Regions from separate parts of the Homo sapiens genome. Here regions 1 and 3 are each linked to region 2. The links come from fine-mapping of genetic effects on gene expression. A gene starts in region 2. Each other region holds a variant in brackets. All regions are shown on one strand. Distances are from middle to middle. Region 1 has its middle 9.9 kb from the start of NKX1-1. Region 2 holds the start of TACC3 (transforming acidic coiled-coil containing protein 3). Region 3 overlaps TACC3 (transforming acidic coiled-coil containing protein 3).

The links. PIP is the estimated chance that this variant, and not a neighbour inherited with it, causes the effect.
Region 1: its variant is the best candidate, but not a certain one, in a credible set for the expression of TACC3 in monocytes after R848 (Quach 2016, PIP 0.67).
Region 3: its variant is the best candidate, but not a certain one, in a credible set for the expression of TACC3 in whole blood (Lepik 2017, PIP 0.77).

Annotation. Positions count from the first base shown.
Region 1 is chr4:1,391,590-1,401,541 of GRCh38, reverse strand. It overlaps a transcript of UVSSA not described here. Among named protein-coding and RNA genes, the nearest start is that of NKX1-1, 9.9 kb to the left of the region's middle. RefSeq lists enhancers at 5,565-6,305, 5,906-7,105. The variant C/G (reference allele first, on the strand shown) is at 5,272.
Region 2 is chr4:1,716,131-1,726,082 of GRCh38, reverse strand. TACC3 (transforming acidic coiled-coil containing protein 3) reads right to left here and starts at 4,562. Exons shown (of 16, transcript NM_006342.3): 1 at 4,440-4,562; 2 at 2,500-2,662; 3 at 2,213-2,355. The coding sequence starts at 2,661. TMEM129 (transmembrane protein 129, E3 ubiquitin ligase) reads left to right here and starts at 4,760. Exons shown (of 4, transcript NM_001127266.2): 1 at 4,760-5,450; 2 at 7,457-7,931; 3 at 8,408-8,567; 4 at 8,655-9,952. The coding sequence starts at 5,246. The coding sequence ends at 8,903. RefSeq lists enhancers at 3,732-4,727, 5,810-5,909, 6,550-6,629 and silencers at 4,350-5,159, 5,170-5,219.
Region 3 is chr4:1,739,910-1,749,861 of GRCh38, reverse strand. TACC3 (transforming acidic coiled-coil containing protein 3) reads right to left here. Exons shown (of 16, transcript NM_006342.3): 12 at 9,860-9,903; 13 at 8,876-9,036; 14 at 5,238-5,344; 15 at 5,030-5,150; 16 at 4,691-4,914. The coding sequence ends at 4,849. It overlaps LOC112268460 (a long non-coding RNA gene), which reads left to right and starts at 9,036. Exons shown (of 2, transcript XR_002959774.2): 1 at 9,036-9,142; 2 at 9,244-9,952. RefSeq lists a silencer at 841-1,040. The variant T/GT (reference allele first, on the strand shown) is at 3,850.

The DNA.
Region 1 (9,952 bases), 320 kb after region 2:
CAGGGGCGGCTGGGATCACCCTGTGTGTTTGCTGCCCCCACACCCCAAGCCCCAGGCAGGCCTTGGTTCCTCCAGCCAAGGGCCGGCCTGACTCCCAGTTGCTCTCTGCTCCCTTTCTGGGTCCGCATAGGTGAAGTCACCTGCCTGCAGCAAGCGTCCTGAGGCTCACCAGCCCGGGGGCAGGGCAGCCTCTCCCTCCTCCCTCCTCCCTCCTCCCTCCTCCCTCCGCTGGCAGAGCTCAGACTTGCTCGGTGGGGGTCCATGAGGGAAGGCGAGCCACCTGCAGGTGGCCAAGTGTAGCCAGAGGGTCGACTCACAGCTGAAGCCAGTGCAGCGGGCTTGGCCTAAGCTGGGCACTGGGGCTGCTGAGTGGGAAAGCAGCTGCTGCGTGGCCAGGAGGAACCCAGGTCTGTGCTGCAAGGGCCTTCCCCTTTGCTGAGCTTGCTGGAACATTCCAGGAGCTCACAGCCCCACAGGGAGATGATAGAAGGTGGCTGCGACGGTGCAGGCCAGATTCAGACCCACTCAGAGCCGGGCCAGACCGCTGTGTGCAGCCCTCCCATGGAGCTTAGATCCTGGCTCCCCGTCCCTCCAGCTTCCACATGCCCCCACCCTGGCCTCCTCTGTCTCCTCCCCTCAAGCCTCAGCCAGAAACACAGAGCCACACCGGAGGGCCCTCTAGCAGTGCCCCTGGGCTGCAGGATGGGATGGAGGGTATGGGCCGGGGGCTGTGAGGTCTGGGAAGCAATACCCCCCTCCTTGCACCACCCCTTCTCTAAGCTCCCTGGACAGCCCACAGCCTCATGCTGCAGGCATGGGGGGCATTTCCTCCAGTCTCTGATTCACAGTCACTCTGCAGCGGACCCTCGTCGGAGTCGGACTGCGTGCAAAGCCACCTGAGCCTCCCACTGTGCTTTGCTGAGAGTCACATGTGGGAAACTGAGGCCCGGCAGTCATGGGGCTTGCTGGGGGCAGTGCCAGCTCTGGTGCCAGTGGGTGCCCTGCTCCCTCCTGAAGGAGCCTCCACTTTTTAGCCCACACTCCTACTGGGTCCCCAGGCCCCCAGTCTCCCTGGGAGAGTTGGGGAGCCATTCCCTTGCCTGCCTCCCAGGGAGCCCTCGGGCTGCCCCACCACCCCCATTTCCACCAGGTTTGGGCCTCCCCTGCCCGCCATTTCCAGTCTAGGCTGCCTGTGCCTGACTCAGTTTCAGCTCCCTGGGCCTGTGCTGCAGGCAGAGGTGAGCGGGAGCCTTGTTAGGGGTCTCAACGTGTCCCCCACTTTGGTGTCAGGGCCGTGAGGGAAGGTCTCAACCTCAGGATCTGAGGGCACTCTTCCATGGACCCTCCTCCTAGGGCTCAGGACCCATCTTGCCCTGGACCACACCTGCCCCAAGTTCCCAGAACCACACACATGTCGTTGCTGCAAAGCCAGGCACAGAAGGGGCCTCTTGTCAAGCGAGCATGAGCCCAGACAAGGGCGGCGTTTGCTCTCACGCCCTGGGCTCCCGTCTCCTGCCCAGGGACCGCTGAGCCCAGACGGTAAGGGGCCTCCCATTGAGGCCACCTCCCCACCCCCACCAGCCGATGGTGCTGTGGTCCATTGCTGTGTGGGTCAGGCCTGGGTTTGGCTGCGTGTAAGAGAAAACCTGAATGAAGAGAGTTGAAAGGAGACTGTTTACTTTCTCTTTGTGAGGGAATTCTGGCCGTGGCAGCCCTGGGCAGTTTTGAGACCTTCACTGAGTCCTTGGAGACCCAGCTCCTGGCTCTCTGTGCTGCATCAGGCCTGGACGGGCCTCAGCCTCACAGAACCCAATGGAAACTGAGGCTCCAGCCACCACATCCTCACCCCCGGCTGCAAACAGGAAGAAAGGGAGTGGCCAGCAACACCCCTCTCTTTTAAGGAGCTTTCCCGGAAGCCCACACAACACAGCTGCTTATGTCCCATTGGCCAGAGCTGGGTCACGGGCCCTCTCTTAGCCAAGGGAGGCTGGGAAGTGCAGTCTCCCCCCAGGCATCTCACTCCTAGTGAAAGGTGAGGATGGATTGGGGCCACCGGCTGCCCCTGCCGAGCCCCCCTGTGCTCCCCACCCATGCCCACCTGCCCACACCCCCAGCCCCAGGCAGCTGGGCTTCTGAAGAAAGTCGCCCTCAGCCCGCCTGGTCTTTTCCGAAGCCCAGGGCCTCGACCTTGGTGGGCACCCAGCTCCTACACCCTAAGGTGTCTGGTGTACCCTCTCCATAACCCCACCCTGGGTTGGCCACAGGTCCAAGCCCATCTTCCAGCCATAGGATCTTGTCACCTGCCTGCGTCCTGCCAGGGGAGACAGCCCCTGCTGGGCTTCAGATGCGTCCAGTGTCTCCAGGCTTAGGCATAACCCTCCCTGGACCCCGTGTGGCCTCCAGCTCTCCCCCTTTCCTCCCAGCCTCCAGCCAAAGTATCGAAAGAGCCGTCTACACCTGCTGTCTACACTTCCTCCTCACTTCTCCACCCCTAAGGAGGCTCTCGCCGTCACTCGGGCCCTTGGCTGCCCCATCCTGGCGTGGCCTCCTCAGCCCCCTGCTCACTTGGTGGCTGGTTCCTCCTGCTCCGAGTCCTGGGCAGCCTGGGCTTGGGGAACCCTCATCCTCCACTTGCCTTCCTGCCATGGCAATGGTGTGCCTGGCCCTGTCCTTGCCCCGCGATGTCCTGGCAATGGTGTGCTTCTCCCTGTCCTTGCCCCGCAGTGTCCTGGTAATGGTGTGCCTCGCCCTGTCCTTGCCCTGCGATGTCCCCCCGGGGGCCAGGGGCCCTCCAGGCACCACAAAGCCAGACCAAGCTCCTCCCAGACCAAGCCAGCCCCACAGCCTCAGAGCAAACCCCAGGCACCAAGCACCCTCCCCACATCCAACCCAATCTACCCATATCCAGATGCCCGAAAACACCCTGCATCCAACCTGATCTACCCACATCCAGATGCCCGAAAACACCCGGCATCCAACCTGATCTACTCACATCCAGATGCCCGAAAACACCCTGCATCCAACCTGATCTACCCACATCCAGATGCCCGAAAACACCCGGCATCCAACCTGATCTACCCACATCCAGATGCCCGAAAACACCCGGCATCCAACCTGATCTACCCACATCCAGATGCCCGAAAACACCCGGCATCCAACCTGATCTACTCACATCCAGATGCCCGAAAACACCCTGCATCCAACCTGATCTACCCACATCCAGATGCCCGAAAACACCCGGCATCCAACCTGATCTACTCACATCCAGATGCCCGAAAACACCCTGCATCCAACCTGATCTACCCACATCCAGATGCCCGAAAACACCCGGCATCCAACCTGATCTACCCACATCCAGATGCCCGAAAACACCCGGCATCCAACCTGATCTACCCACATCCAGATGCCCGAAAACACCCGGCATCCAACCTGATCTACCCACATCCAGATGCCCGAAAACACCCTGCATCCAACCTGATCTACCCACATCCAGATGCCCGAAAACACCCTGCATCCAACCTGATCTACCCACATCCAGATGCCCGAAAACACCCTGTATCCAACCTGATCTACTCACATCCAGATGCCCGAAAACACCCGGCATCCAACCTGATCTACCCACATCCAGATGCCCGAAAACACCCTGCATCCAACCTGATCTACCCACATCCAGATGCCCGAAAACACCCGGCATCCAACCTGATCTACCCACATCCAGATGCCCGAAAACACCCTGCATCCAACCTGATCTACCCACATCCAGATGCCCGAAAACACCCTGCATCCAACCTGATCTACCCACATCCAGATGCCCGAAAACACCCGGCATCCAACCTGATCTACCCACATCCAGATGCCCGAAAACACCCGGCATCCAACCTGATCTACCCACATCCAGATGCCCGAAAGCACCCGGCATCCAACCTGATCTACCCACATCCAGATGCCCGAAAACACCCGGCATCCAACCTGATCTACCCACATCCAGATGCCCGAAAACACCCGGCATCCAACCTGATCTACCCACATCCAGATGCCCGAAAACACCCTGCATCCAACCTGATCTACCCACATCCAGATGCCCGAAAACACCCTGCATCCAACATCCCCCCTGGCCACCGCCACGTTGTCCCCCCATCCCTAGGACCTCCCTGCGGTGCTCAGGCCTCCCCACACCCAGTGTCCTGCTTGTGATGGCCACCTGGGTCCCCCATCTCTTCCCTGGTGACTGAGTGCCCCCTCACTCCTGGTCTCTTCTGGCCAGCTGTGCACAGCGTCAGCTGGGAGGCGGGGAGGTGAGGCTGGACGAATAGCTCAGCAGCAGAGGGAGGTGAGCACAGGGAGGAAGGGGCAGGGGTGGGCAGCCAGGCAGGGCTGCAGGACTGCACCTGAGGGAGGAGGCAGGGCTGAGCCCCATCCCTGCCCTCACGACCACTGTGGCCCCCACCTGCCTCTGGCACTGTTGCCCCTCCCCCATCCCAAGGTCACCTTTTCATCCACAGAGGCCCGTGGGGTGGGGGCATCTCATCCACTGGGGGGGGACCTTGCTCATGGGTGACAACCTGGGGATGTCCATGTCCCACCTCCTCCCGACTGCCCTGCAGTGTGGTCCCCTTTGGAGACAGCTCTGCTGGTGCAGACGCCTTCTCTCTTTCCCTGGGAGGCTGTGGCTGAGCGCTCATCTCAGATGAGCTGAGCTCCACATGTCCTGCCTCTGGGGCAGCAGGCAGCTGGGTGCTGCCTGTGACTAGGTTCTGGCCAAGTCGACATGAACAGTGTGTGTGGGGGTAGGGGACTGAGAAGGCTCCTTATGGGAATCAGCTCAGAGGGGAGGCAAAGCCCTCCTCCTTCCTTCTGCAGACCTGGTGATGGCTGGAGCCCCAGCAGCCACCTTGGGCCATGAGGTAGCCTTGGGGTTGGAGGCCACGTGCTCTGATACTGAGCCAGGAACTGGAAGGTGCTTGGGGGCGCCTACCCTTGGACCCTGATTCAATAGGACACAAACCCTTCTGTCTACGAGCCACTCTTATTTGGAGTTTCTGGTTCTGTGTTGCTAACCCTGACACCACTTTCCATGGTGGCCCATCCACCCCAGCGCTGGGGCTGTGACCCATGCCCACCAGTCCTCCCTTGGTCACTCCTCGCACTCACCCCCTGCTGCTCTCCGGGCCAACCTCAGCCAGTCTGCCCTGGATGAGGGCAGCAGCATGCTGGACCAGCTGGCACGGGCCCCCTCCCACTGTGAGCCGTACCAGTAGCCCCTACGTGCAT[C/G]TGCAGGCCAGACCCCCCCAGGCTCCTCCCCCCGCCATCTGCCTGGCTCATGGGGACCCAAACCACTTTGTGGCAAGTGTGGGTGGAAGGGGTTTGCTGAGGGGATCTGAGGAGGGCCCACCCCCAGCACCCCCTTAGTGCCAAGTCACTGACAGTGCCCTGAGCCCGCAGTGCTGGAGCTGCTCCCAGGTGCACAGGCCCCACCCCTCACCCCACCAGCCAGAAGGGCCGGCCCAGCACCCCCACCCCACAGGGCCCCTCACTTGGTCACAAACACTGAGTCACAGGTTTGTCTTTTAATCAGCATCCATGAAAATTCATTAAAAGGTCTGATACGAAAAGCACCAGGCTAACAAATCAGTCCTGAATTCAATTTTACAAAAACACCCTCTCCTCTTCCATCTCATCCCTAATATTCCTACGTTATCTCGAGGTGCAGAGAAATATAAAAGGGATCCTTGACATAAAAACGTATTAAAAAGCCACCATGAGTAGAATGTACGGTAACAGCGTCTGACTCGGCCGGCAGGACAGGAAACCTACAGAACCACCATGCCAGGGCTTTGTGTGAGCAGGCGGGCACTCCACATGGGCACGTGTGTGAGCAGGCAGGCACTCCACATGGGCACGTGTGAGCAGGCGGGCACTCCACATGGGCACGTGTGTGAGCAGGCGGGCACTCCACATGGGCACGTGTGAGCAGGCGGGCACTCCACATGGGCACGTGTGAGCAGGCGGGCACTCCACATCGGCATGTGTGTGAGCAGGCGGGCACTCCACAATGGCACGTGTGAGCAGGCGGGCACTCCATATGGGCACGTGAGCAGGCGGGCACTCCACGTCGGCACGTGTGAGCAGGCGGGCACTCCACATGGGCACGTGTGAGCAGGCGGGCACTCCACATCGGCACATGTGAGCAGGCGGGCACCCCACATCGGCACGTGAGCAGGCGGGCACTCCACATGGGCACGTGTGAGCAGGCGGGCACTCCACATCGGCACGTGAGCAGGCGGGCACTCCACATGGGCACGTGTGAGCAGGCGGGCACTCCGCATCGGCACGTGTGAGCAGGCGGGCACTCCGCATCGGCACGTGTGAGCAGGCGAACACTCCACATGGGCACGTGTGAGCAGGCAGGCACTCCACATCGGCACGTGTGAGCAGGCGAGCACTCCACATGGGCACGTGTGATCAGGCGGGCACTCCACGTTGGCACGTGTGAGCAGGCGGGCACTCCACATGGGCACGTGTGAGCAGGCGGGCACTCCACGTCGGCACGTGTGAGCAGGCGGGCACTCCGCATGGGCACGTGTGAGCAGGCGGGCACTCCGCATGGGCACGTGTGAGCAGGCGGGCACTCCGCATGGGCACGTGTGAGCAGGCGGGCACTCCGCATCGGCACGTGTGAGCAGGCGGGCACTCCACATGGGCACGTGAGCAGGCGGGCACTCCACATGGGCACGTGTGTGAGCAGGTGGCACTCCACATCGGCACATGTGAGCAGGTGGGCACTCCACATGGGCACATGAGCAGGTGGGCACTCCACATGGACACGTGTGTGAGCAGGCGGGCACTCCACATGGGCACGTGTGAGCAGGCGGGCACTCCACATGGGCATGTGTGAGCAGGCGGGCACTCCGCATCGACATGTGTGAGCAGGCGGGCACTCCACATGGGCACATGAGCAGGCGGGCACTCCACATGGGCACGTGTGAGCAGGCGGGCACTCCACATTGGCACAAAGCGAGGGCTCATGCATAAGAGGTGCAGGGACACCTGGACAGCTATTTGAAATTTAAAAACTGGGTTTCCTGGCTCACATTTTGTATCAAAAACTAGAAGTAGATCAATGATTTCAATATGAAAATGAAACCCATAAAAGTACTAGAAGAAAACATGGAAAACATTTCAAATATAATCTTTAAGGGGGAAGAGCATTCTAAGTAGAACACAAAACTTAGAAGCCAAGAAAGATTGATAATTCAACTACATAACTCATGAAAGGAAGATCTGAGGAACGAGATGCCCACAGTGGCCGCTGAGAAGCTCTGCCACACTCCTGGAGGCATGGAAGGCTGTGCCCACACAGGCACAGAGCTGTGTGTGTGCCCGAGAGGAACCTGAGCTGCCCTGGCCCTCACCTCTGGCTGGCTTTGTGGCTGTGTGCAAGTAAGAAGTGAAGGCAAAGGCACAGTTGGCAGCTGCCTGCTGGAGCACTGACCACATATCAACTGCGTGTCAGCAGAACCGCGATGGAGCGCTGAAGGCACACTCACCATGCATCAACTGCGTGTCGGCAGAACCGTGAGAGTTACTGGTGCAAAGCACTTAAAGGGGTCCTCTGTCCAGTCACTGGCTGAACATGAAGCTGATGAGGTGGACACTTCAAATTAGTCCAGAACACACACTAAACAAAAGGTAACAGCAACAGAACAACAATAAACTCGTGGAGAGGGTATCTGATTTCCAGAGTTGCACAGCACATTATTAAAGTGTCCAGTCTTCAAAAAATACATATATATGAGACCACAAAGAAAGAGTATGTTATTTCCTTGGCTCTGACATGGGAAAAAAGGTCATCAATAGGAACTTCCCCTGAATAAGCCCTGATGTTGAACTTAGTAGACAAGTCACCTATCTATCTTATCTTATCCTATCTATCTATCTATCTATCTATCTATCTATCTATCTATCTAATCTATCTATCTATCTAGTTTTGAAAGCGTCTCGCTCTGTGGCCCAGGCTGGAGTACAATGGCTTGATCCTGGCTCACTGCAACCTCTGCCTCCCGGGTTCAAGCAATTCTCCTGCCTCTGCCTCCCAAGTAGCTGGGATTACAGGTGCACACCACCACGCCCGGCTTAGACAAGTACTTTAAATCAGCTTCTACACATATGTTCAAATAACTAAAGGAAACTGTGTCTACAGAATTAAAGTATGAGAATGTTTCACTAAACAAAGAATATGAGTAAAGATACAGAAATTATAGGAGAGAGCCAAATGGAAGTTTGGAGTAGAAAAGTACAATAACTGAAATGAAAAATTCACTAGAGCAGCTTGACATCAGGTTTTGTTTGGCAAAAGCATCTGTGACCTTGAAGATAGGTCAACTGAGATGACCCATTCTGAGAAGAAGAAAAAATTCCGGAATAAAGGAAAGTCAAGGAGGCCTCCAAGGCTGTGCCCAGCTCCACATCAACACACGTAGCTGGAGTCCAAGTGGGGGAAGAGAACATGGACATAAAATATTTCGAGAAACGACAACCTAAAATTTCCCAAATTTGCAGAACCACAATGGAGCGCTGAAGGCATACTCACCACACATCAACTGTGTGTCAGCAGAACCATGAGAGTTACTGGTGCAAAGCACTTAAAGGGGTCCCCTGTCCAGTCACTGGCTGAACATGAAGCTGACAAAACCGAAGGATTCAATACCCACATTCAATATCAATATAACTAGGCAGAAGATCAATAAGTGAAGAGAAGATGTAAACAATCAGACTACAAGAAATATTAACCTCTATATCCAAGAAGCTCAAAGAACTGCAGGTAGGACACACTGAAAGATCCACAATTAGACACACCACAGTCAAACAGTCAGAAGCTAAAAAGAGACTGAGACATGGTGCGGTGCTCCCGCCATGGAAACCACAGATGCCAGAGGCAGTGGAATGACATCTATAGAGGACTGAAAGAAAAAGAGGGCCAACCAAGTCAGCCATATCCAGCACAATTATTCTTCAGAAGAGAAGGAAAAATTACAACATTCTCAGATAAACAAAAACAAAGAGAATTCATTGCTAGAAGATCTGTCCTACAAGAAATACTTGAGGCTGAAGTCCAAGACACCACACTCAAATCCACACAAAGAGCACCAAAAAAGACAACTGCAAAGCCAGCAACAGAGACAGCAGAAACTCATTTCTGTTTGTACATCTTTTCTTCTTCTATGTGATTTAAAAGACAACTGCATAAAGCAATAATTACAAGACTGCTGACGGACTTACAATCTAAAAGGTAGCATTTATATGACAAATACAGCACCAAGAAGCTGAGAGGAAACAAAGCTACTTGAAGTGAAGGTTTTTGTACATTATATTAAGTTCATCTGAACACTTGATTGGTTTTACGTTGTTACTGTAATACTCAGAGCAGCTGCTAAGAAAGTTACTTTTAAAAAAACCCAGTAAAACAGACAAGGAAATTACAATGTTACAAGAGAATTAAATGTCCATTTAACACAAAAAAGTAATGGAGAAATAAAGGAAGAAAGACAAAAAAGACAATATAGTAAACAAATTTAGAAATGGCAGATACAAATCCAACTTTCTCAGTAATCACACTGAATGTAAATGGATTAAACATCCCTCTCAAACAGCAGAGACCAGCAGGACAGATGAAAAACATGATCCCACTATGTGCTGTCTACAAGAAACACACTTTTGATTCAGAGCAGAGACCAGAAAGACAGATGAGAAACACTATCCTACTATATGCTGTTTACAAGAAACACACTTTAGATTCACGGCAGAGACCAGCAGGACAGATAAGAAACATGATCCCACTATATGCTGTTTACAAGAAACACACTTTAGATTCAGAGATACAATGAAAGTTAAAGGGTGAAAAAAGATACCATGCAAACAATAATCAAAAAAGAGCTAAGTGGCTATACTAATA
Region 2 (9,952 bases):
ACTGTTTCACCTGTTCCCCAGCCTTCAGGTCCCTGAGAAGACGCAGGGTCATGTGCCAGTGCCTCAGATAAGGGGCCCATGTCACCTGCCCTTCTCTTCCAACTCTAAGTTTGAAGATGTCAAAACTGAGAAACTGAGGGTGAGGGACCTGTCAGACTGCTCACAACTCCTCTGCTGCCCAGCTGCCACCTTGGGGCGGCACTGCCTTCCCAGGCGGCCACTCGGCTGTCCTCTGAATGACACGTGGGCAGCTGCACGCAGCGGCTGCTCTTGGTCTCATCCCACTGACGTGGGAGCACCACAGTGACCACCACCTGGGCCTCAGCAGAGTTCCAGAAAGGAGATGACAGCCACGAGTCCAAGCCACAAGCTCAGAGTCACTCTGGCTGGAGCCCCTCAGGGCCAACCTCTCAAGCCCCTCCCAGCTCCTCTACACCCTCTGCCCTATGGAGGCTGCTGGGTGATCCTGGAGGCATAGGGGAGAGGCAGGGGATCTGTGGCTCTGGGACGGATCACACCCATGGCAGCTGGGAGGCGACTTCTCTGCTGCTGGGTCTCCCTTCCTTCTTGGGGTCGTTGTAAACCAATGTTTGATTCATTCTCGCTTCGTTTGACCAAATTTCAAAAGGGGCAAAAAACAAAGTTGAAAAGTAGCAAGCAGACATGGGAAGAACTGCAAATTCAGGCTGGAGGGGTAGAGGGGAGACGGACCCAGGGCCCAGAGAAGGATGTAGGAAATGCTGCCTGCACTTACTGGTGACATTTTATCTCAGGGGGTGAGAAGCATCAGTGGTATTCTGTTCCTTATGCTTTTCTCTGCACATCTAAAATCTGCTTAAAAGTTTTGGGCCAGCCGGGCGTGGTGGCTCATGCCTGTAATCCCAGCACTTTGGGAGGCCGAGGCCGGCAGATCACCTGAGGTCGGGAGTTCAAGACCAGCCTGACCAACACGGATAAACCCCATATTTACTAAAAATACACAAAATTAGCCAGGTGTGGTGGCGCATGCCTGTAATCCCAGCTACTCGGAGGCTGAGGCAGGAGAATCGTTTGAACCTGGGAGGCGGAGGTTGTGGTGAGTTAAGATCGCACCATTGCACTCCAGCCTGAGCAACAAGAATGAAACTCCGTGTAAAAAAAAAAAAAAAAAAAAAATTGGCCGGGCATGGTGGCTCACAGTTGTAGTCCCAGCTACTAAGGAGGCCAAGGTGGAGGACTGCTTGAGCCCAGGAGGTTGAGGCTGCAGTGAGCTGTGATGGCACCACGGCACTCCAGCCTGGGTGACAGAGCGAAACTCTGTCTCAAAACAACAGCAACAACAGTTACATCAGCAAAAAACCAACAGAAAATCATGCCTCTGGGGTCCCTTCCCACCCTGGATGCAGATGAGGTGTTCCTGGGTGCCCAGACAGATTAGTTCAGCCGCAGAGTAAAGAGCTGCCACCAGGATCCTCCCTTTCTAGGCAAAGACAGACACCGCCTCGCCATCCACTTGCAGTTAAGAATCAGGTCGGCTAAAAAATTAGCCGGGAGTGGTGGCGGCGGGCGCCTGTAGCCCCAGCTACTCGGGAGGCTGAGGCAGGAGAATGGCATGAACCTGGGAGGTGGAGTTTGCAGTGAGCCGAAATCGAGCCACTGCACTCCAGCCTGGGTGACAGAGCCAGACTCTGTCTCCAGAAAAAAAAAAAAAAAAAAAAAAAAAAGTGAAGTATGAAGTTATCCAAGTATCTGATGATCGACTTTTCTGTTAGTGAACTGGCCATATGCTGCATACACTCAGTGCAGATTTCAGGAGAAATCCAGCCAAGGCCGGCCGGGCGTGGTGGCTCACACCTGTAATCCCAGCACTTTGTGAGGCCAAGGCGGGCGCATCATGAGGTCAGGAGGAGATCAAGACCATCCTGGCTAACACGGTGAAACCCCTTCTTTACTAAAAATACAAAAAAATTAGCCGGGCGTGGTGGCAGGCGCCTGTAGTCCCAGCTACTTGGAAGGCTGAGGCAGGAGAATGGCATGAACCTGGGGGGCGGAGCTTGCAGTGAGCGGACATCGCGCCACTGCACTCCAGCGTGGGCAACAGAGCGAGACTCCATCTCAAACAAACAAACAAAAAATCCAGCCAAGGCCTGATAGAACAAGACAGCACTTTCCTGCAAGAACCATCGGACAGAGAGGGTGAAGCTCCAGCATGTCCAGCAGCACCAACACTTACTTCTCTTTCTGTGTCCAGACCGGGTGTGAGTTTTCCAGTCCAAGGGTGTCATCCTGAGTGAAAGGAGCCTCAAGTTTGCTGGCCATGCTAGGACTTAGAATCCTGTGCGTCTGTGGATCCCGCAGAGGTGTCTGAAAAGTCACCTGTTGCGGAGTGAGGAGGAGAGCACCTATTCATTAGTTCAAGCTGTTACAGCCACACCAGCAGTGTCCTGCAGCTCAGAGGTCACCAAGAAAGCAGGCCCTAGGGCAACCTGGCCAGCCACACACTGTACAGGTCACACTTACCTTCATAGCTTTGGCCAGGTTCTTGGGTGGCACATTTTCTTTCTGTGACACACGAAGAACAGACGATCTTCCGGTAACTTCTGGTGGCGAAAACAGGAAGTCGCAATTTTCTGTATTTTTTTCATTGCTGACATTTTTGTCGTTTAAGACCTGCAGACTCATTCTGGAAAAGCAGAACATGTTTGTGTCAGTGTGAGGGCAACACTACCACATTGTCCAGACACAGACGTGACAGCTGCTGCAAGGGGCACGACCACTTCCCACACAGGTGTGCTCATTGCTCTGGAACTCACACCTCCCACACGTGTCTCTTGGCAGAGAAAGCCTCAGACTGAGTCCCCATCTTGCTTCAGAGACTCACTCTCCAGCCTGGCAGGGGGAGCCATGGGCAGCACTGCTGCTTCCTGGGACCAAGAGCTAAAGGGCCTTCAGGCTGAGATGGTGAGAAAGAAAACCCAAGCCTGCATAATCTCTACTGCTGTATTACTATATCAAGCAGAAGTCAAGAGACGGAAAAGCCCGGGCCAATAAGAAACCCGGATGAGCCAGAGGAAGCCCTGGTCTCCCCACAGGCCTCTGCGTGTGACGTGAGGCAGGACCGGGCAGTAGAGGGCAGAAAAGCAGGACAGCGGCTCTGGTCTGCTCTCTCCCACCGGGCTAGGCAGCGGGACAAGACCAGGCTGAGAGGGTGAAGGCCCAGAGGAGGAGCTGGGAGACGATGCGCAAACAAGGGAAGCCCAGAGCTGAGCAACAGGTGCCAAGGAACTTCCACATCAGAGCCTCCAGTCAGTCCCAGGTTCCAGGGCTGCCCAGGTCCTCACGCCGGTCACCCACACACTTGCCACCCTTTCTGTCTACAGCGTTCCCAGTCTAGGGAATGACGTAGGGAAAAAGGCTGCCAGAGAGAACCGAGTGTCGACCAGGGCAGGAACCCCACAGGCACCTGGTGGTGGAGGGGGACCTGGGGAGGCTTTGATTTGAAGAAGAGCAAAGTTGGGGAGGGTCCTGGAGAAGAGAGAGGGGGCAGCCCCGGCAGGTCGGTGCTGCAGCTTGAGAAGCCCACTGTGGTGCTGTGTGTGGGTGGGGAGGTTAAGAGCAGAAGGGAAGCAGGGAAACCACAGGCTTCTGGAGCCCAAGGAGTAGATGCCAGACCAGACCCGGGCCTGGCCACTGGCACATATGGGACTTACGGACGACGCTTAGGTTTTCGCCCTGAATAACTGGGTACAGGGCAGGGGAAGGGGTGCTGGATCGCTGGGGGACCCGCAAGCCTCGAACTCAGGGAGAAAGTGACTCGGAGGAAGCCTTCTGGCGGCCTGGAGGAGCTCGGGAGAGCAGCAGACCCAGCCTTAGTCAGGAGGGGCCTTTACTGACTATGGAGGCCCGGGAGGGGCTCTGGGCAGAGAAGGGACCGGCCCCAGGCTGGTGCTTTGGTGCTACTCTGGTGCACAAGAGGGATGCGGTGCGGGGGGAAGGTGGAGCGGCGCAGCAGGTGCGGGGAAGCGGTAGGGGCCCAGGTGTCCGCCGCAGGCGGCCTAGATGGAGTTGGCCCCAGGACGGAGGCCGGAAGGGACCAAAGAACAACAGGAGGGTCCGCGTGCTGGGAGCCAACAAAGAGCCAAGGTGGGCGACCGAGAGACAGGAGAGGGTCGAGGAGAGCAAAGCACCTCGGGGCGCCCGCTCCGCCGTCGGTCTTGGCCCAGCTCTAGCCGCCCCTGGCCACCATCCAGGGGGCCCAGCCCGGCGGTCGGTCTAGGGCCGGGTCCCATGACAGGGCGCGGTACAGGTTCTGGCGGCGGCCCCAGGAGGAGCCGTGGGGGACGCTTCCCGGGGAAAGCGGCGGCCGGGGCGGGAGGGCGAGGGCCGAGGGCGGGGCGGGGCGGGACGGCCTCGCGCCCCCAGGACCCCAGCCTCCCCGCGCCGTGTAGCCGCTCTCCTACCTGCCCGCCCGCCCGTTGCCGGGCTCTGAGCCCGCGCCGCCGCCGCCAGGAAGGAGGGGTCCGCGTCTGCTCCACGCCGGGGGCCAAGCCTAGCTGCTACCGCCGTCGCGCTTCTAGCCCTTGATGGCCGCCGGCGCGCCGGAGTTTCAAACGCCGACGGTTGCCTTCGCGCGGCCAATCAGCGCGCGGCCGGGGGCAGGACCGCAGGAGGGCGGGCGTCCAATGGGAAGCTGTGCCTCGCCGGCTCCGCCCTCCCTCCCCCCCCACCCCCCGCTCGGGCGCCGACGGTTCCGTTTCCGGAGTGGAGGGCACGCCAGGGTGTCTGAAGCTGAGACCCCGGGCTCGCAGTCGCCCCATGAATTTCGAGTTCCGCAACTGACGCTACTGGGCGGGGCTTCATGGCCAGGGCCTCGCTCAGGCCTAAGTTTCCCCACCTGTGCTCAATGCACAGGTGCGGTGCCGCCTCCAGGGCCGGCCGAGAAGAGAGGCCGCACCCGCACGGGGACTGCATCTCCCAGAGCGCCCCGCGAGCGGCCGAGCGGCGGGACTCCATGCCCTAGAGTGCCCCGCGGGCGGCCGGGCGGCGGGACTCCATGTCCTAGAGTGCCCCGCGGGCGGCCGGGCGGCGGGACTCCATGTCCTAGAGTGCCCCGCGGGCGGCCGGGCGGCGGGACTCCATGTCCTAGAGTGCCCCGCGGGCGGCCGGGCGGCGGCCGCCGCAACCGACAGGTCCGGGACTGGGCGCTGCGGCCTCGTCCGCGCGCCGGGGCGGGGGCCTAGCTCGACAGCTTCCCGGCGGCTGCGCGATGGACAGCCCCGAGGTGACCTTCACTCTCGCCTATCTGGTGTTCGCCGTGTGCTTCGTGTTCACGCCCAACGAGTTCCACGCGGCGGGGCTCACGGTGCAGAACCTGCTGTCGGGCTGGCTGGGCAGCGAGGACGCCGCCTTCGTGCCCTTCCACTTGCGCCGCACGGCCGCCACGCTGTTGTGCCACTCGCTGCTGCCGCTCGGTGAGGCTGCTCGGGCCGGCCGGCCGCATCCTCTCCTGCGCAGGGCTTGCTGGGAGGTCAGGAGGAGGCCTCCGCCAGCTCCCCGAGGCCCCGAAAGCGCCTGGGCGCAGCTGGGGAGAGGCGCCGGTCCTCATCCAGAGGGACCGCGGCGTGGGCTGAGCGCGCTTAGGGGCGCCGCCGGCACTGACTTGCAGGTGACGGGAACCCAAGTTCAGAACCTTGGGCAAGGGATGCTCCGGCCCACCAAGTCCTGAACCGTCACGTGCCTGGGGGTTGCAAGGCCAAGCAGCCCTTGCTTGTCGTGGTTGGGGGCAGTGGCCAGGAGAAGGCAACTGTTGATTGAGTCCAACGGAAGGGGTCGGAGGGGCTGTGTGGAGGGTGGCACTGCACTAGGCCTTGGAAGGTGGGTGTGGAGAGAACAGGCGGATTTGGAGGCAGTTCCAGTTTGGGGGCGCCACAGGGGCAGAGGCTGGGGAGGGCCTCTGTGCAGTGCAGGTGGGACGCTCAGAGTTGTCCAGGGGGGTGCTGGGCTGGGCCCCAGGTGCTAGCTGGGGCTCTGGAAGGTCCCTCTCTCAGCTGATTGGATGACGGACAGGTGGGAGGTGGGGTGTGCAGTGGCTGGAGGGGGATTTCAAGGGGGTACCTCTGGAGGACACGGGGGCAGACGCAGCCCTGGGAGGACAGATGGCCAGTGGCTGGCCAGGTTTGCCACTCTGGGGATACAAGAGGGGTGACCCTCCACATCCTGGTTTGAGGATGCAGCTGCCTGGGCCCAGAAGAACTGGAGGCAGGTGTCGGGTGGAGGCGCCCAGGCCTGCCTCATGGAGAGGGTGGGCTGGGGGCCCACTTGAGAGATGGATGGGGCTGAGTGGGGCTGGGGCCCTGACCAGGCCACTTTCTAGGGCTACTGGGTGGGTTTCTGTAGCCCTTCCAGCTGCACCCTCCCCAGAGGCCTATGAGGGACCACAAGTGAATTGTGGCAGCCACACCTGGAGCAGACAGCACAGCTGGCCTCACAGTCGGATGTCAAGCTCTTTTTATTTTTAACTTAGTTTGAAAGTTTTCAAGCTTTATTAGGTATTAGTTACCTGTTTTATTTTTATTTTTACTTTTTGAGACGGAGCCTCGCTCTGTCACCCAGGCTGGAGTGCAGTGGCATGATCTCGGCTCACTGCAACTTCGGCCTCCTGAGTAGCTGGGACTACAGGCGCCCGCCACCACGCCCGGCTAATTTTTTGTATTTTTTAGTGGAGATGGGGTTTCACCGTGTTAGCCAGGATGGTCTCGATCTGACCTCGTGATCCGTCCGCCTCGGCTTCCCAAAGTGCTGGGATTACAGGTGTGAGCCACTGCACCCGGCCCCTAGTTACCTATTGTTATATGTCATGTTACCTTGAAATGCAGTGACTGGGCCAACTCCAAATGTGGACTATTACTTTTTGCCAACTGGAACCTGCTGGTGCAACTCCTCACCATCTCCATGGCTTATTTGGACCTTCAAATTGTCCTCGATCTGGCCAGCAGGGCCCTGAAGCTGGCTCCGTGTCCTCTGGACATGTCCCATCATTCTTTGAGACTTGCTTCCTTTCTCGCACATAACTTTTCAGCTCTGGGATGCACCACATTTGATCAGCCTCCTCAGAGCGGGTGAGATTGAGAGACTGAGATCCTGTCCAGGCAGCTGCCCTGGCAGGCCAGGGGTCAGCTCTGCCTGAGGTGACACCTGATTGTGTTTATTTTTCCCTTTCTAGGCTTTTGTAGTTTTTTCAACACTTACGTATTGTGTGAAACTAAAGCAGCAAATTAAAAACCTTTTCCGCTAATATATCCTGCCTTTGCCACAGGCAGGGAGAGAGTGGCCGGCTGGGGAAGTGCAGAGTGGGTAAAGCCCAATTACCCTGGGAGCTGACCCTGGAACCCGGGCAGAGGGCCAGGTCCAGGGCTGTCGGGGGGTGGACAGCGGCCTGCCACTCACTTTCCCCTGAGGCTCACCCTGTCCTTTGCAGGCTACTATGTGGGCATGTGCCTTGCGGCTTCAGAAAAGCGGCTCCACGCCCTCAGCCAGGCCCCTGAGGCCTGGCGGCTCTTCCTGCTGCTGGCCGTGACCCTCCCCTCCATCGCCTGCATCCTGATCTACTACTGGTCCCGTGACCGGTGGGCCTGCCACCCACTGGCGCGCACCCTGGCCCTCTACGCCCTCCCACAGTCTGGCTGGCAGGCTGTTGCCTCCTCTGTCAACACTGAGTTCCGGCGGATTGACAAGTTTGCCACCGGTGCACCAGGTGCCCGTGTGATTGTGACAGACACGTGGGTGATGAAGGTAACCACCTACCGAGTGCACGTGGCCCAGCAGCAGGACGTGCACCTGACTGTGACGGAGTCTCGGCAGCATGAGCTCTCGCCAGACTCGAACTTGCCCGTGCAGCTCCTCACCATCCGTGTGGCCAGCACCAACCCTGCTGTGCAGGCCTTTGACATCTGGTAAGAGTGTGGTGCCTGTGGGGCTGCGGAGGGCACATGGCAGGCCAGAGCCAGGCTCTGGTGCCACGACCCCTGGGAGGTGCTGGGTGTAGCTGGTGTGGACTCCAACACTCCTGGGCTTGTGTGACACCAGGCAAGGTGTCCACAAGACACCAGTCACTGAGCCCTCCCGCATAGCCCTCCCTCGGGTCCCCCTGCACTCTTGGCCTCCCCTTCCACTCCCTGGAGCCACCTCCCCCAGATTCTTGGGGAGCACTCAGGACAGTGCAGCCCTCAGGCTGGACAGCTGCCTTGCTCCTAGGTCCGTCCCGTGCCCAGGCTGGGCTGTCTGGCACTGGGTCCGTGGGCTCTGGCCTTAGGGCCATCTCTCCTGGTTGGTCCTGGTGCGACAGCTGCCCTGTCACTCCTTGGGGTGTAGCCTCCATCTTCCGCTCCCTTTGCCCTGCAGAGGGGCCCAGCAGCTCTCCTCCCTGCAGGCTGAACTCCACTGAGTACGGGGAGCTCTGCGAGAAGCTCCGGGCACCCATCCGCAGGGCAGCCCATGTGGTCATCCACCAGAGCCTGGGCGACCTGTTCCTGGAGACATTTGCCTCCCTGGTAGAGGTCAACCCGGCCTACTCAGTGCCCAGCAGCCAGGTGGGGGGCCTGGGCCAGGGCCGGGTGGATGGGTGGGTGCCCACGGGTGTCTGCCTGGGCTCCTGGTGACGCTCCACCTGCCCGCAGGAGCTGGAGGCCTGCATAGGCTGCATGCAGACACGTGCCAGCGTGAAGCTGGTGAAGACCTGCCAGGAGGCAGCCACAGGCGAGTGCCAGCAGTGTTACTGCCGCCCCATGTGGTGCCTCACCTGCATGGGCAAGTGGTTCGCCAGCCGCCAGGACCCCCTGCGCCCTGACACCTGGCTGGCCAGCCGCGTGCCCTGCCCCACCTGCCGCGCACGCTTCTGCATCCTGGATGTGTGCACCGTGCGCTGAGTGGGCTGGGGCCTTGAGGTGACTCTGTGTCTCCCCCCAAAGCCACAGGGCAGGGAAGGGGGTGGCTGGGCCTCCTGGCTGGCAAAGGGCTCTACTTAAAGCACATGATGTAGAGCAACTCGCCTCTGCCCTGGGTCTGCAGAAGGCTGAGGACTTTTGGTTAAAAGCAATCCTCATGAAAACACCCCACCCTGCTTGGCAGCCAGGGTACAAGTCCTGGGCACCTCCTCTTTGCCTCCCTCCTGCCCCTTTCCTGCTGGTGGGGGCAGATCCTGCACACACAGACACAGCGTCTGCCCCCGAGCCATTCCCTGGAGACCCTGGGTCTACCCCAGGTGGTCGTCATCTGGGCCATTTGCCTTACTTCTCTGGAGCATACCCACCCTCAGTTACGTGCCAGACCTGGACCGCATTCTCCTGCCCTGTCCTGGAGCTGGCCCCTGGCTGCCTGGAGGACCCTGGGTAGGTCCTGAGGGTGGGATGGAGAAGAGGGCACTGCTGTGGTGTGGGAGCAGTCCTGGGGCTTCCTGGTGGCTGTGACCAGTTGAGGGGCTGTTCCTGGGTGGGGTGGCAATGGGAGGACAGGTCAGAGCGCCCTCATTTGTGGGGCTGCCCCTCCGGGTTTCTCATCCTGTCCTTGGTGCCTTTTTCTGCCCAACAAGTCCAGGGAAGGCCGAGGTCTCAGACTCCTGGGTAGGGGTGGGGGTTTGAGTTGAGGACCAAAGTGCCATAGCGACATCCAGAACACAAGCCCACCAGGGGTCCAGCCCAGGCTACCCACTCCCCTAGGGTCTCCCAGGCTCAGAAGGGGATGCACGCCCCCTGTGGTCAAGCCTCTGGTGGGCGTCTTGCCCAGTTCCTGATGGTTCAAGGGGAGGGGGGATGTTGGCCAGGCCCCAGGGCACAGCCCTGACACAGGTGTGGCTACTGGAGGGGCCTTCATACCTGCGGCCCCAAAGCCCCTGGGCTTGGCTGTTTGAGGCAGAGGTGATGGACTCCGGGGGCCTGACACTTGGGATTTGGGAGGCTTCCTAGAGCGCTCAGCAGGT
Region 3 (9,952 bases), 24 kb before region 2:
CCGGGCTGGGGCAGACGCGTTCGAGGGGCTGTTTCTTGGAGTCTGGTCCATGCCTGCAGAATTGCAGAGTTGGAGGACCCAGTGAGTACCACTGGTGGTTCAGGCTGTAGAGCGCCATATCCCCAGCCACCCAGTTACAGGGTGTGTTCCCAGAACCCAGCTGGGCAGGGTTGGGTAGGGAGGGAGGGATTGGGCCTTGCCAGGGCCCCCCTGTCCTGCAGTCCCCCTATCAGGCTAGGCCAGACCCTCAGCTAGCGAGGGTGCCTGGTGTGCTGCCTCCAGCCCTGCATGGCCTGAAACCTCCCAGTCCCCAGCCCTGCCCTCCACAAACCTCCAGGGGTCTGGTGAGTGTGCAGGGTCCAGGGAACAGAGGGGAGGCAAAGTCGCAGTGAGGGGCTGGTGGGGAGGGGGTGGTGAGGAGGGGGCATAGTGGGGAAGGGGGAGGTGGGGGGGGCTATGCTGAGGAGGCAGGTGAGGAGGGGGCAGATGGGGAGGGGGCATGGTGGGGAGGGGGCACAGTGGGGAGGGGGCGTGTTGGGGAGGGGGTGCCTTGGGGAGGGGGGGCAGTGGGGAGGGGGCGTGTTGGGGAGGGGGTGCATTGGGGAGGGGGCGCAGTGGGGAGGGGGGAGGTGGGGAGGGGACAGGTGAGGAGGGGACAGGTGGGGAGGGTTCGTGGTGGGGAGGGGGCAGGGGGAGGGAACAGGTGGGGAGGGGTCGTGGTGGGGGGACAGGTGGGGAGGGGGCGTGATGGGGAGGGGGCACGTTGGGTGGGGAGGGGGCACGGTGGGGAGGGGGCGTGGTGGGGAGGGGGTGCGGTGGGGAGGGAGAGCGGTGGGGAGGGAGAGCAGTGGGGAGGGGGCAGGTGGGGAGGCCCTGTGGGGAGGCCTGGTGCGGGCCCAGGTGGCTCCTCGTCGCCCCAGGGTGGGGGCCCCTCCTGGAGGCCTGTGGCCAGGCGGTAGGAACAGCCTGGCAGGAGTGCGGTCGCGCCGGGTCTGCAGAAGGGGCTCCGGTGGCCCAATGGCGCCCCCTGCAGGCTGTTGGGGTCCAAAGGCTCAGGCAGAAGCCCCAGGAGTTCGGGGTCCCCAGAGCTCGGGGGCAGCCAGGACGTACACGTTCCACCCCTCCAACCCACGGCACAGGTGGCACGCGCACCTGCTACTGGAGCACACCCCAAGGAAGGCCTGGGCTCGGGCAGAAGCCCCTCCTTGGACCTCGTCCAGCCTCAGCCCTGTGGGGACAGGGCTTTTCCCTCACGTGCTCCAGCTTCCTGAGCGGCTGCTGGCCCGGTCCTGCCCCTCACAGAGCTCCCTAAGAGAGACAAGGGATGTGCGCTCAGCCCACCAGGGCAGTCCGGCGCGGCGCCGGGGCTTAGTCCCCAGGCCTCCGGGGGTCCTTCCCAGAAAGTGGAGTGATGGGCTGGAGGAGGGACCTCCGGCAACCACGTGGGCTTGCAGCGACCCTCACTGGCATGGACCTTGGGGACCGAAAGGGGTCTGGGGTTCAGCCTGGGCTGGGGACAGCTCCTGAGTCCATGGGAGGGTGATCTGGGTCTGCCTGCAGGCTGGGTGAACTCTCTCCCGGGGCTCAGGCTGGGTAGGGCAGGGTGGGGGCTGCAGAGGGGTGCCTGGCAGGGAACGCTCGGGCTGTGGTCAGCTTGTCCTGGCCTATCTCCCTCGCCCCCACCCCCTCTTCCATCCAGCCTGGTGGCTGGCGGCCCCTGGAGAGAGCATGGGGGCATGGGAGTGAGCTTGGAGGGGCAGCCCCACCGGCCCTGTTGAAAGGGTCTTGACCAGCCCAGGGAGGCAGCTGCAGGTTCCACTCCTAGGTGGCCTTAGAGGGGTGGGGGTGCCCCACAGACCTAGCTTCTCCATGTGGGCTGAGCCCTGCACTCCCCTCGGGATTTGGATATTGGCTGCAGGGGGAGCTGGGCAGTGGGTGGGCACCAGGCTGGACAGCCCCTCGGACGGCGGGGTCTCATCCTGCCTGGGACCAGATGGCTTGCACCACAGACACGTGTTTCTCTGGGTTCTGGAGGCGCCAAGTCCGCCATCAGGGTGCTGGCGGGTCAGTTCCTCCAAAGTGCTCTCCCGGCCTGCTGCCTTCCCGCAAGGACACTAATCCCAGCAGACCAGGGCCTCACCCTCACGACCTCGTCTAACCCTCACCCCTCCTTCCAATGGGGCACGTCGGGGGGGTGTTTCTGAGCCCTGCCCTGAGCTGTGGGAAGGGCAGAGCCGAGCGCTGCCTCCATGACTGTGTATGAGGACTCCCACGGAGGCAGCCCCCAGGACAGCTCCTGTTTCCTTGAGCCCCCCACAAGGCGACTGCGTGGATGTGCAGGGGGTCCGGGGCTGCGGAAGTCCAGGCCACGGCTGCGTGCCCAGCTCAGGTCATGTTTACCAGGCAGGCCAGTGCCAGGGCCCCCGCCCGGCCTCGCAGCCCTGAGTTAACTCAGGCTCCAGGATAAACACCCATTCAGCCACACAAGGCCCCTTTGTCCTGGGAGAGAGGCTCCCGGCCCAGGACGCTGCCTGGTGGCCGGTGTCCTCGGCGCGGCCCCAGGCCCGGCCAGGTGCCCTGACACGTTCAGCCGCCCTGCACGGCCTTCTCCGGGCAGGCTCCCGGCTTGGCTCAGAGAGGCCCCAGCAGGGGACAGGGCCCTGGGCAGCTGTCAGAGGAGCCAGAAGGCCAGACCGGCAGGGCTGAGTGAGGAGGAGGACCTGGCAGCCGCCTTGTGTCCTGAGACCTTGTCAGAGCAGAGCTGACCCGGCAAAGAGAGGTGGGAGTCCTGCGGCCGGACATGCCTGTGGGCAGCGGGGAGGCCGAGGCGGGCCGTGCTGCCCATAGGGCAGCTGGTGAGCTCTGGAGGCTCGAGGGCCCTTCTTCTCCCCCATATCCTCAACCCCAAGCAGGAGAGGGGGCCCACACCCTGTGCTTGGCCCGTCTCCCCCGGCCAATGGCCACTGGTCTGTGGGCCTCGGTTTCTCGTCTGTGAAGTGGGCCACGGAAGGCTCTCAGAGGCCCCTCAGCCAGGGATTACACCCTATTGTTACCCAGGCTCGGGGCTGAGATGGGGGTTGCTGCCCACGGGAGGGAGGGGCGCGATGGTCCTGGGAAGCCAGTCAGGAGGTGCCGCAGGAGCACAGGTGGGCTGTGGAGGGGGAGGGAGTGGCCCCCAGGCCCCCCTGAGGCTGGCCCAGTCCCTGCCCCAGCCGTGACTGGCCATGGCCCGCTGTGGCCGTCCATCCCTGTGCCAGGCCCCCTCCTCCAAACGTGCTAAGAACAAATGCACCCTCATGCCCTTGGGGACACCCCACTGGCCACCCAGGCTGAAGCCCCTGCCCGCCCCTCAGCCTCCCTGGCGGTCCATGCGGCTTCTTGGCACCCGTGCCCCGCCCCTTCAGGGTGTCACCCACCTGGTCCGGTCCCTGCATGGCCCATGGCGGCAAGCGACCCCTGGCGGCGGCTGGGGGTGTTGTTGCGCCCACCCGAGGTCAGTACTGCAGTGCTGCTCACCAGGCCAAGGGGCAGACTCGCAGAGCCTTGGAAGCAGGTCCTGGGACTGCAACCCCCAGGCTCAGACACTACTGGGGCCAGGTGACTGCGGCCAGATCTCGGCCTGGGTCCCTCCCTATGTGGGGAGCCCCACTCTTCACTGATGGGAGAAAACGGCTTTTCTGGACGGCGTGATCTGGGCACAGCAGCAGCACCGACCCCTGGAAACAGGTTACAGCGTCAACCCTTGGTCTTGCCTGGCCCCTCAGGAGGCCCTGGCCCTCTGGCTGGTGCTGGGGTCCTAGGTGCCATGGCTGAACCCAGTGACCAGCATCTCTCAGCTCGGTACCCAGG[T/GT]TCCCGGGATGCCCCAGCTGGGCCAAGCCTCTGCCTGACCAGAAGGGCTCCTGGAACTGCCTTGGGTTCCAGTGTGCCTGTCTGAGTTTGAGATCCGCAGGACGGGACTGCTGGAGATGGGGTTAGGGTCGGGGAGGAAGCCCTGCCGTGTGGAGACAGAACTTCCTCAGGGAAGCCTGTTTTGCTCTGAAGTCTCCACGCCCCCAAGGACGAGGACGACAGGAGCTGAGCAGCTGCACCTGCAGGGGGCCTCCCTCCACACCCACACCCAGGTGAGCGCTCAATTAGCTGGGGCTGCAGGCTCGCCAGGTCGGCACCAGAATCAGAGCCACCGGCATGCATGCCTGGCTGTTCACAGTTTTTGTTTTATATGAAAACTTCCCCGTCTCTACTAAAAATACAAAAAATTAGCCGGGCGTGGTGGCGGGCGCCTGTAGTTCCAGCTACTCGGGAGGCTGAAGCAGGAGAATGGCGTGAACCTGGGAGGCGGAGCTTACAGTGAGCCGAGTTCACGCCACTGCACTCCAGCGTGGGTGAGAGACTGTCTCAAAAAAAACAAAAAACAAAAAAACAAACAAAAAAACGAGTCCATTTGGACTTTGATGTGTGTACCTGAGGCCAGGACCATGTAGCCAACCCGAGGTGGCCGGGGCAGACTGGGCAGGCCTGAGCCTCCTCTATCCACTGGCTGTCCCTGCCCCTCGGCAGGGTGGCCTGAGCCTGGGGTAGGCAGGGACCAAGTGGCCAGCTCTGAGGGGAAGGGAGGGCACCTGCGGGTCGGCTCAGCCTCAGGCTAGAGCTGGGAAACCTTTGCTTCATCAAGACCAGAGCGGCTTCAGTGTTTAAATTGAAAGGAAACTTTTATTGAGTCATGTTTTCAAAGCAATCTAGTTTTTAAAAAAGTTGAAGACAAGACAGAAAAAAGAACATGACACCTAAGAGAATCAGACAGGACAGACAGACGGGAGCAGGGGGGCGGGGACAGCGGCTCCGTGGAGGTCAGATCTTCTCCATCTTGGAGATGAGGTCGTCGCAGATCCTGGTCAGCTCCTCGTTCTCTTTAGTCTGGAGGAGGAAGATGAGTTGCGGGGCTTCTCCCTGCTTGGAGGGAGCAGCAGGCCCAAGGGCCTTCTAGAAGGTGCTGCCAGACGGCCCCTTGAGCTGGGCTTCCCGCACCCACCTTCTGCTCCACTGTCTTCTCCAGCGACTGGATGCGCATCTGCTCCTTCCTCAGGCTGGCCTGGAGGGCCAACGCTTCCGCCTGGGCCTTGCTCCGGACCTGGGCGATCTCCTCGTTTGCCCTGGAGGGGTAGGGGCGGGGCAGAGGCTGAGCTGGGGCCCAGGTGCTCAGATTCTCCCTCCAGGGTGGGGCCTCGCCCAGCACTCACAGCTGCAGCTTCTCCTCCGCGTGGGCCTTCAGGGCTTGGTACCTCTGGCCCTCCTGGGTGATCCTTGCCAGGTAATCCTCCACGCACTTCTTCAGTGACTCTTCGTTCTAGGAAGGGGCAGGCATTAGCTGTGGGTACCACGCCGTCTGCTGGAGAGCACCCAGGCTTGGTGTCTGGGGACCTGCAGATCCTCGAGGCTGTCTGGGGCATCAGCCGTGAGCCAGTAGCTCCCGTTTTCCTTTTGGAAAAAGCCCCTTCACACAAGTTCCCAGCTCACCCCCTCTGGAGGTTCAGGACAGCCCTGGCTCTCCACCCTGAGATGCCGGGCCTGAACCTGGTGCCCTCACGGCTGGGCCCCCTCCTGCCACACCTGCAGCCTCTGCTGGCACCAAGTGCTGCTGGAAAGTGGGATGCACCTGGGACCACTGACAGCCCAGCCCGTCTCCCTCTGGAGCTGAGCCCTGTGCTTTGGGGACAGGCAGGGGAGGCCAGCAGGAGCCACATGGTTACCCAGACACGCCTGCTCCTCACAGGCTGCTGCCCCCTCTGGGGGCACCTTCCGCTCAGTGACTGAGAAGCCCTAACTGAGGGGTTCCTGGGTCCCCGAGTGGCCTCTGCTTGGGAAGGCTCAGCCTACCTGCCTTCTTCCTGCAGTGCCCCCAGCGGCCTCACAGCCCAGCCATCCTCACTCCTCTGTCGCAGCCCTGTATCCCAGAAGCACCCTCAGCACTGCAGCCTCTCCCTGAGCCCCTACCCAGCATGCAGCCCCTGATGTCCTGCGGAGGTCACGCCTCCCTTAAACCCACAGCACTGTGTTTCTCTGCTGTGGAAAATTCCCAACAGCGTCTGTCCGGGAGGCGGCATCCGGAAGCTCTCACGTGTGCACAGGTCAAGCCTCCCGCCACAGCGGCGTCTCTCCCTCTGGCTCTGGGGGCTGCCGTCCACACACTGGTTCCCAACTCAGCCTCTGCTTCCCTCATCTGACCTGTACCCTTTGAATTGTTAATGTTGTTAACTGTGTACCTGTTAGAAATTTCCATTTGGTTCTTTTCTAGTTTCTGTTTTTTTTTTTTAGACGGAGACTCACTCTGTCACTCAGGCTGGAGTGAAGTGGCATGATCTCGGCTCACTGCAACCTCCGCCTCCCGGATTCAAGCGATTCTCCTGCCTCAGCCTCACAAGTAGCTGGGACTACAGGTGCGTGCCACCATGCCCGGCTAATTTTTGTATCTTTAGAAGAGACAGGGTTTCACCATGTTGGTCAGGCTGGTCTCAAACTCCTGATCTCGTGATCCACCCGCCTCGGCCTCCCAAAGTGCTGGGATTACAGGCGTGAGCCACTGTGCCCAGGCTTTTTTTTTTTTTTTTTTGAGACGGAGTCTCGCTCTATCGCCAGGCCATAGTGTGATGGCGCGATCTTGGCTCATTGCAACCTCCACCTCCTGATTGATTCTCCTGCCTCAGCCTCCCAAGTAGCTGGGACTACAGGTGCCTGCCACCATGCCCAGCTAATTTTTGTATTTTTAGTACAGAAAGGGTTTCACCATGTTGGCCAGAATGGTCTTGAACTCCTGACCTCATGATCCTCCCGCCTTGGCCTCCCAAAGTGCTGGGATTACAGGCATAAGCCGGCCTAGTTTTTCTGTATTTTTTGTTTTCTGAGAGAGTCTCGCTCTGTCGCCCAGGCTGGAGTGCAATGGTGCCATATCGGCTCACTGCAACCTCTGTCTCCCAGGTTCAAATGATTTTCTGTCTCAGTTTCCTGAGTAGCTGGGACTATAGGTGCACACCACCATGCCTAACTAATTTTTGTATTTTTTTTTTTTGAGATGGAGTCTCACTCTGTCGCCCAGGCTGGAGTGCAGTGGCACGATCTTGGCTCACTGCAACCTCTACTTCCTGGGTTCAAGTGATTCTCCTACCTCAGCCTCCTGAGTAGCTGGGACTACAGGCAAATGCCACCCTGCCCAGCTAATTTTTGTATTTTTAGGAGACGGAGTTTCATCATGTAACCCAGGCTGGTCTCGAACTCCTGACCTCAAGTGATCCACCCGTCTCGGTCTCCCGAAGGGGATTCTTTTCTAGTTTCAAGGTCTCTATTGAAGCAATACTCTTCTGAATACAGAAGACAATTACTTTAAAGTCTGCACTGGGTCGTCCAAGATGGGATTAGATGTGCAAAGGAGCCTCCATGAGGAAGTAGGGAGGTGGCCAGTGGGAGCTGAGGCACAGGCCTGCCCCGGGGAGAGGCGAGGCCAAGGCAGCTGCTCACACCACAGCCCAACCTGAGGGAAGGTCAGCAAAGCCGCTGTGTCCTCAAGCCAGCAGCACCGTGTGAAGAGTCCTGCCTCTCCAAGCGTCTGTGCTGGGCCAGACTGCTGTACTCTGCTGCCGGTGGGCACTCTGCTGCCACAGGGCCCTTCCCATCTGCTCCCTGCAGACCTGAGGCACCACCTGCCGGTGCCAACTCCAGCGTCTGGGGCTCCTGTGGGTCTATCAACAGTTTTTGTTTTTGTTTTTTAATTTTAGAGATGGGGGTCTTGGTCTATTGCCCAGGCTGGGGGTGCAGTGATACAATCATGGCTCACTGCAGCTTCGACCTCCCGGGCTCAAATGATCCTCCCACCTCAGCCTCCCTAGTAGCTGGGACCACAGGTGTACATCACCATGCCTCACTCTAATAACGGGTCTGATTTTCACTCATGTTTCCTGTTCCTTTCACACTTGGTTATTCTGTGCCAGACACTAATTTAAAACTGCAGCAGCAATTTAAAGCATAAGATACCTTCTTCCCTAGAGTATTCAGGCTTGCTTCTGTTAGGCAGCTGGGCCCCAGCCACTGACACCCACCTGACTTCAGGACTCAGATGAGGTGTGGCTCAGCAGGCCCTGCAAGGGCCGCTTTTCCAGTTTAGTCTGACTCCCAGGGGACCCATCTGGTGTCCCCAACCCCCTTGCACCAACAGTGACAGCCCCTCTTCCAGCTGCACCTGCAGGTCCAGCTCCTCCACAGGAGGCGTTGAGCACCTCCGCTCCAACATTGCTGCTGTGGGCAGAACCCTCTGGCGGCCTCGCAGGCACCTTCCAGGCCTGCTCTGGGCAGATGGATGGCCCAGACATCCCTCCTTCCAGCAAGCATGTGGGCCTTGCCCAGCACAGAAGGTGGGGGGCGCTCAGAGTCCCGTGGCCAGGAGGACACCAGGGTGGCCTTGCACAGCCGTGACCACCTTTCAGTGGGCCTCCCGCCTTGGATACTGCATGCCCTGGGTCCCCAACCCTTGGGACCCAAGCGCTCGGACAGCCCAGACACCTTTCCGAGGTGCCCCAGGCCCCGGTGCACCAGCGCTGTCTCAAATCTCACAGATGCCTGATCATAGCCGAGTCGTCTGTCACACAACAGCGGACGGCTCAGATGGCCTCCCTGCTCACTCTGCCTCCTGCCGCCCTCAGCTGCCTCGCAAACCAGCTATGCTGTGACTCCTGCACCCTGTCTCGTTCACAGGTCATCCCATGCCCCCGTGGCAAGGGGAGGCTTGGCCAAGGACCAAGGTGCAAAGACAGCAGCTTGTAGCCCCGCTGGCTTGGACCATGAGTCCATCAGCCTCCGAGGTGAGGACACCAGGGTGGCGGAGACATACCTTGCGGTAGCCCTCGATCACCTCTTTCTGTTTCTCAAAACGCTTGAAGAGGTCGGAGAAGGACTTCTCCATGGAGTTCAGATCTGTGGTAAGTTGGTCTTTTTCTTTTAGAACTTTCTGGATTTCAGCTTTGGAAAGTTCCTTCTGCTTCTGAACTTCCTCTTGAGAAAAGAAAAGCAAACGTTCAGGATGAGGAGGCAACCGAAACGATGGGTGCCAGAGACAGCCCAAGGAATGAGGCAAGGGACTCGAGCGCCAGGAGGAGAGGTGGGCAGTGGGTGTGAGCCTCGGAGGGTGATGGGTCCCTCCACCCAGGATCTTCTAGGCCGGATGCAAAGCCCAGGAAACAGCTGTTTCCTCCACATCAGATCCGCAGGGAACTGGAGCCTGGGCCAGAGGTCCCTGAAGAGGCGGCGCCCAACACCCTAGAGCCTAGGGTGAGGCCTGGGAGCCGGTATGGCGAGCTCCAGGATGTGCGTCGTGCTTCGTGGTGGTCCTGGAGGGACTGCAAGGGCCAGGCGGTCACCTGCCGCCGGCTGACACTCAGCCTAAGACAGATCCCCACAGTAGCACCTCCAGGAGCCCAAGCTTTTGGGAGGCCAGATGAGGCCTGGTGTTCCCGTCCTGCCAGACACCTACAGAGGCTGCTGCTAGACATAGCCGCACGGCGAGGGCAGGGTGGAGTGGGGTAGGCCACGGCGGGACAGACTCTGCTCCCACCACAGCCCCACTGCTAGCTCAGCATCTGCACAACTGTGGGGCCTGCCAAGCCCTGGCTCCGTGGGAGCCACCAGCCTCACTACCACCAGCTTCCCCGCAACTCGCCTCAGTGCTTCCACGGCCGGGCCCATGTTGAAGGGACTCGTGTGTTAGGAAAAGGGGCCTCAGGAGGGTGGGGTCCTAGGCAGGGTGCAGGGCAGGGCCAGGGTGGGGCATAGGCAGCCCCTCGTGGAGGCACGTGGCCTCGGTGGCCCGGGCACTCACCCATGGCCTGGTACACAACCTCTTCGAACCTGTCCATGATCTTCCTGTGGGAGGAGAACAGACACACAGCCATTGCCTCGGGTGCCCAGCGGT